Homo sapiens: one gene and its partner. The protein of the gene in region 1 interacts with the protein of each later gene in a biochemical or structural test. Each region holds a gene or a part of one and is shown on either strand. Other genes may lie near its edges.

The links. Proteins that work in one complex are often made in the same cells at the same time.
Region 2: of the proteins of GLI1 (region 1) and MAP3K2, one has a biochemical effect on the other in vitro, tested with the Homo sapiens proteins (one study listed by BioGRID).

What each region holds. Positions count from the first base shown.
Region 1 is NC_000012.12:57,462,785-57,466,284, reverse strand, and holds part of GLI1 (zinc finger protein GLI1), read right to left. Parts: exon of another isoform or gene 3,313-3,500; intron 2,621-3,312; 5' UTR 2,594-2,620; coding exon 2,494-2,593; intron 2,287-2,493; coding exon 2,194-2,286; intron 1,613-2,193; coding exon 1,417-1,612; intron 1,175-1,416; coding exon 1,030-1,174; intron 679-1,029; coding exon 589-678; intron 498-588; coding exon 360-497; intron 46-359; coding exon 1-45. UniProt on the Homo sapiens protein: Acts as a transcriptional activator. Binds to the DNA consensus sequence 5'-GACCACCCA-3'. Regulates the transcription of specific genes during normal development.
Region 2 is NC_000002.12:127,381,476-127,384,975, reverse strand, and holds part of MAP3K2 (mitogen-activated protein kinase kinase kinase 2), read left to right. Parts: intron 1-3,500. UniProt on the Homo sapiens protein: Component of a protein kinase signal transduction cascade. Regulates the JNK and ERK5 pathways by phosphorylating and activating MAP2K5 and MAP2K7. Plays a role in caveolae kiss-and-run dynamics.

The DNA.
Region 1 (3,500 bases):
CACGAACTCCTTCCGCTCCCCGTGGATGTGCTCGCTGTTGATGTGCTGAGGGAGAAGATACAAAGGCTCTCCAAGGCTCTCCCATGACCCTGAGGTCCAGAACAGACCTTCCCTCCACCCCCTGTTCCTCTTCCACGACTCCACCTCAAGGAGGAAGAGGCAGGAGCAATATCATATCTCACATCTCAGGTCTTCCAGCTCCCTAAGGCAAAGCTACAACTTCTGAGCTTCTGCCTACCCAACTGAGCATTCAACCTCAGTCTCCTCTGACCTCCTGCCCTCAGCCGGATTCCACCATGTCCCACTCAGAATCTCCTAAAGGTTCTGGCTAGCCATTCCTGTTACCCCCTGGGGCTCACGTGCACCAGCTGCTCTTGGGAGTCAAATTCCTGGCTGCAGCCATCCCAACGGCAGTCAGTTTCATACACAGATTCAGGCTCACGCTTCTCCTCTCTCTCGAGGTCCTCCCGCCCATCCAGCATCCCCAACAGGGGATCCTAGGGCAAGAGAGGCAATCTCAGGGTCACTTGGGTGACAGCTTTAGTTTTGCTCAGGTCCCAGAGGTAAAGCTCCTGCCCATCCCCTTACCTGTATGCCTGTGGAGTTGGGGCTGGACATATCACCTTCCAAGGGTTCCTCCCGGCACTTGCCAACCAGCATGTCCAGCTCAGACTTCAGCTTCCCCAGGGGAAGAGGTGACGGTGATGAGGGTGGAAGTAAGCAGAAGGAAGAGGAAACCAAGCCAGGTCTTCCTGCCCTAAGTGCCCCCACCCAAGCAGCTGGAACCTCCTGGGTTTGGAAGGGACTTCCTCCTCAGACTACACTGGTGAATGGGATGGGCAAAAGGTGGGATCCCATTTGGAAGCGTCTGACTCAACTGCAAGGAGTGAACCCCAGCACCCACACCTCTTTACTTTTCTAGTACTGAAAACTTATATCCCTTGTCCTTCCTTCACCTTTCCCCTACAAAATCCACCACCCACCCACCCTGAGCTGAGGGAAATCAGGTAGCAATATGGGGACTCTCACCTGGCAAGTTGGGAAGGGTCCCCGGGACTGAGGATGTGGGATCATCCCACCCCGGGCAGAGTCATGGGGACCACAAGGCTGGACCCCAAAGGAAGGCGAGGGCCCTTTTTGGTGATTCATCTGGGCTGGGAATCCCAGAGATGGGCTGAGGAGGAGAGGAGGCAGTTACTTAAGACAATTAGGAAGTCTCAGGAAGGATTGGGCTATTTGGAGGATTTCTGGAAGACTTGGGATTTGTAGTGGTTGAGGCAGTCCCAGGGAAGTACTGAGGAGAGTTGTCTTTGAAATGACAAGGATTCAAATAGGGTTAGGTAGTTTGAGGGCTTGAGACTTTTAATGGACTTGGGTAGGGGCTTTAGGGGCCTCTTGGCCCGGGGCTGACTGCACCTCATGGTGCCAATGGAGAGATGACCGTAGGAGCCTCCTGGAGATGTGCATCGCGAGTTGATGAAAGCTACGAGGGAGCTGGGTGAGGTGCGGATAACCGTCTGCAGGTCCAGGCTGGCATCCGACAGAGGTGAGATGGACAGTGCCCGCTTCTTGGTCAACTTGACTGCACTCCGGGGAGAAGAAAAGAGTGGGCCTGGGGCAGGAGACAGCGGAGACGGATATGGTAAAGGGGCATGTCTCTCCATGCACCTAACCTATGGGTCCTGACTTGGCAAAACCAATGATACTTGATTCTGCTTTGCCCTATTGATGCTATCTGTGACTTTTTTTTTTTTTTTTTGAGAGACACAGAGTCATGCTCTGTAACCCAGGCTGGAGTGCGTGGCACCATCTTGCCTCACTGCAACCTCTGCGTTCCCAGGTTCAAGTGATTCTCCTGCCTCAGCCTCCCCTGTAATCGGCACTACAGGTGCAAGCCACCACGCCCGGCTAATTTTTGTATTGTTAGTAGAGACAGGGTTTCACCATGTTGGCCTGGCTGGTCTTGAATTCCCGACCTCAAGCGATCTTCCTGCCACGGCTTCCCCACAAAGTGCTGGGATTACAGGCGTGAGCCACCGCGCCCGGCCCCATCTGTGACTTCTTGATGGTGCTCTGACGCCTCACATCTCCAAGCATCTCCTCCTCCAAGTGAGATCCCCTGCCCTCCCACTTTCTCTTTCAGAACAAGTCAGAGAGGGGCAGAAAGGGAAGAGGTGTTGCCTGAGCCCTCACCCTCGGTGCAGCTGTTGGTCTCTCTGGCTGGCCCATAACTGTGGGGGCCGGACATGAGGTTAGCTTGGTGGCAGAAGGGCGGGCCAGACAGTCCTAGAAAAAAGAGACAGCTGGAATGGGAATGGAGGATACATAAACCTCACCTTAAAACCCCAGACATGACCTGATCCCAGATTCCAGGTCCATATGACATGGGGCCTCAAATCCTCCTGTAGATAGGAAACTGGCATGGGGTGGGGGTGGGCCCAAGTGGGAGATCTGCCAAATCCTCAAGGCCCAGGGATTGGTATATACACTGACCTTCTGTCCCCACACTGGGGGCCCCCTGACTGGGGAGGGGCCGGAGACAGCAGGGCTCGCCATAGCTACTGATTGGTGGTGGGGTCATCGAGTTGAACATGGCGTCTCAGAGGAGGGTGTGGGGACACTGCAGAAAGGGAAGGTAGGTATAAAGGTGGAGGAAATAGAGACTGTCAGACAGCAGTCTCAGGCACAGAATCCTGGGCAGAACATCCCTGGTATCCCCCACCCCTCTAAGACATCTGCCACGGAATTCGAGTTGAAAAGAGCATCACTGAGCCGGGCACAGTGGCTCACGCCTGTAATTCCAACGCTTTGAGAGGCTGAGGCGGGAGGATCACCTGAGGTCAGTTGAAGACCAGCCTGGCCAACATGGTGAAACCCCCGTCTCTACAAAAAAACAAAAATTAGCCAGTCATGATGGCGGGTGCCTGTAATCCCAGCTACTCGGAAGGCTGAGGCAGAAGAATCGCTTGAACCTGGGAGGCGGAGGTTTCAGTGAGCCGAGATGGTGCCACTGCACTCCAGCCTGGGTGACAGAGCTAGACTCCGTCTCAAAACAAAAAAAGCATCACTCGCTGAGTGAGGGGAGGGGTAAGGGGAAATGATGTCCCAGAGAGGCAGAGGCAGTCTTGTAGTCTGTGTACTCTGGGGATCTTCTTGGGAACTGGGTGGGAGCTTTGCCTGGGTGGGAGCTTTGCCTGTGTGGTCTGTGTGTAGAAGGCATGTTTTGGACTAATTGTGCCTATATTAACTTCAAGTGATTTTAGTAACATGGACCCTCTAATTCTTCTTGCTGTAACCCTGGGCCGGCTTTGAGGGTGGGATGGGAGAACTCGTGTGATGGATCTGACTTCAAGCACTGGGCGGCTCTGCTAGAGCCCGTTCCCCCTTCCTTCTCGTGCCCCTCCCCAGGGACAGCCCGTGTACAATCTCTGCAGTGTCCAGCAGAGGGAGCCCTAGCCACAGTCCCGACACAGAGCCAGGTGGGGCCAGGAGGGAGCACA
Region 2 (3,500 bases), on another chromosome or scaffold:
TCACTAGGAGTAGATTCCATCTCAAGAAGCCACTTTCTGTCCAGGCGTAATGGGGTCACGCTTATAATCCCAGCAGTTTGGGAGGCTGAGGCAGGAGGATTGCTTGCGCCAAGGAATTCAAGAACAGCGTGGGCAACATGGCAAAATCCCATTAAAAAAATATAGAGGTTAGCCGGTTGTGGTGATTTGGGAAGCTGAAGCAGGGAGAGTGCTTGAGCCGGGGAGGGGAGGTCAGGGCTGCAGTGAGCTGTGGCAGTGCAGACCAGCCTGGGCAACAGAGCAAGACCCTGTCTTAAAAAAAAAAAAAGGCCACTTTGTTTCCTCATCCATAAGAAGCAACTTTTCATCTGTTCAAGTTTTAGCTCTGCTTCTAATTGTAGTTCTCTTGCTCTTTCCGTCACATCTACAGTTACTTCCTCCACTGAAGTCTTAAACCCCTCAAAGTCATCCATGAGGGCTGGAATCAGCTTCTTCCAAATTCCTGTTAATGTTGATATTTTGACCTCCTCCCATGAATCATCAGTGTTCTTAATGGCATCTAGAATGATGAATCCTTTCCAGAAGGTTTTCAATTTACTTTGCTCAGATCTGTCAGAAGAATCTGATCACTGTCTATGGTAGTTATAGCCTTACAAAATGTATTTCGTTTGTTTTTCTTTTTTTAGTTTCACAGTGCGTATAAAGTTATGTTTACAATATACTGTAGTCTGTTAAGTGTGCAATGACATTCTAAAAAAGCAATATATATATATATATATATATCAATTAAAAATTATTTGTTGGCCGGGCACGGTGGCTCACGCCTGTAATCCCAGCACTTTGGGAGGCCGAGGCGGGCAGATCACGAGGTCAGGAGATCAAGACCATCCTGGCTAACAGGATGAAACCCCGTCTTTACTAAAAATACAAAACAAACAAACAAACAAAAAAAACCACTAGCCGGGCATGGTGGCGGGTGCCTGTAGTCCCAGCTACTCGGGAGGCTGAGGCAGGAGAATGGCGTGAACCCGGGAGGTGGAGCTTGCGGTGAGCAGAGATGGCGCCACTGCACTCCAGTCTGGGTGACAGAGCGAGACTCCATCTCAAAAAAAAAAAAAAAAATTATTTGTTGCCAAAAAAATGCTAGAAGAACATCTGAGCCTGGCTCAGGCTAGCCTAATTTTTTTATTTTTATTTCTATTTTTAGAGTTAGCATCTCAATGTGTTGCTCAGGCTGGTTGCAAACTCTTTGCCTCAGATGGTCCTCCCACTTTGGCCTCCCAAAATGTTGAGATTACAGGCATGAGCCACTGTCCTGGCTGTATTTCTTAAATTAGGAAATGCATCCAAGTTGGAAAAGTCAAAATACCCTATTCCCTGATGACATGATCTCTGTCATATTTAGAAAAACCTAAGGATGCCACCAAAAACCTCTTGAATTTGACAAATAATCCAGTAAAGTGTCAATACAAAATCAGTGTACAAAAATGAGGAGCATTTCTATACACCAATGACGATCCAACTGAAAACTAAATCAAGAAAGCAATCTTCAAAAAAAGAAAAAATCCACCTAGAAATGTATTTAACCAAGGAGGTAACAGATCTCTATAAGGAGAACTACAAAGTCCTGATGTAAGAAATTCTAGATGACACAGACAAACGGAAAAACATCCCATACTCGTTGATTGGAAGAATCAGTTTTGTCAAAGTGACCATACAACCTGATATGGGTTGTTTATTTGTCTCCTCCAAGTCTCATGTTGAAATGCAATCCCCAGTGTTGGAAGTGGGGCCTGGTGGGAGGTGACTGGATCATGGGGGTGGGTGCCTCATGAATGGCTTAGCAGCGTCCCCTTGATGATGAGCAAGTTCATGTGAGATCTGGTTGTTTAAAAATGTGTGGCATCTCTCCACTCTCTCACTTGCTCCTGCTCTTGCCAAGTGAGGTCCTTGCTCCCACTTTGCCTTATGTCATGAGACCTCACCAGAGGCCAAGCAGGTGCCAGCACCATGCTTCCAGTCCAGCTTGCTGAACCGTGAGCCAATTAAACCTCTCTTCTTTATAAATTACCAAGCCTGAGGTTTTTCTTAAGAGCAATGCAAGAATGGCCTAATACACTACTCAAAGCAATCTGCAGATTGAAGGCAACCCCTATCAATATACCGACATCTGCTGGGTAGAGTGGCTCATGCCTGTAATCCCAGCACTTGGGGAGGCCAAGGCAGGCGGATCACCTGAGGTCAGGAGTTTAAGACCAGCCTGACCAACATGGTGAAACCCTGTCTCTACTAAAAATACAAAAATTAGTGGGACGAGGTGCCAGTAGTCCCAGATACTTGGGAGGCTGAGGCAGGAGAACTGCTTGAACCCAAGAGATGGAGGCTGCAGTAAGCCAAGATCGTGCTGCTGCACTTCATCCTGGGCAATAGAGTGAGTCAATTTGTAAGAAAACACATTATTATCTGTGAAGCACAATGAAAAGTGAAATAAAACAAGGTATACCTCTACTGAAAGAAGAAAACTATCAAACTAGAATTCTAGATCCTGGAACTATGTATTTCAAAAATAAAGGAGAAATAAACACTTCCAGATATCTTTTTTTAAAAAACACTATGAAGCAGAATAAAATGAAGCTCAATAAAATGAGATATACTTGTATATTATTTTCAGCTGAACTCTTTGAAACTAAGCTATGGACATTATGACATTTTACCTCTCAATATGTCACATGCATCTCCTAAAGTTAAGGACATTTTCTTACATAGCCAAAATACCATTATTGTTACTTTTCTTAGGTGCGATACTTCTTTCATATACTCTAATATATATCCATATTTACATCTCATTCGTACTGAATTGTCATTTGTGGTTTGTACACCCATCCCCACCAAATCAGGATTTCATCAAAGTTTATTCATTGCATTTAGTTGTTAAGGCTTTTTGATCTCTTATAGTCTACAGCAGTCTCACCTCTTACACCCTTTAAAAATGACAATGATTTTTTTTAAGAGATCAAGACAGTTGTCTTATAAAGTGACTCATATTCTCGATTTGTCAGATTCCACCCCCCTCCCCCCGTCATAGCATTGTTTAGCTTGTTCCTGTATTCCCCCATACCAGTTGTTAAGTGTAAACTAGATTTAAAGGGTCGATTAGTTTTAATTTCAACATTTTGGACAAGAATACCTAATAAGTGATTTAATATATTTTATATGCCTCCCATTAGGAGACGTACACTGTGCAGTCCCATTATTTGTGATACTAAGTTTGATTGCTTGGTTGAGAGGAGTAAGGTGAGGTATATTTTTCTCACTGCAGTCAGCAAGTAATCTGTGGCATGATAAATTAGCACTGTAATGCTAGCCTGTTCTCCAGTGATCTTTTACCTAATAGTTGTGGTATCTTTTGCTGATCCTTGTCAGGCTAACTTTTAAATTTCAGTGTTAATAAATGTTTGTTGGTCTATAGATGGAAACAAATCACAGGAATTAAAAAATATCCAGCTAGGTTAATCAGAATC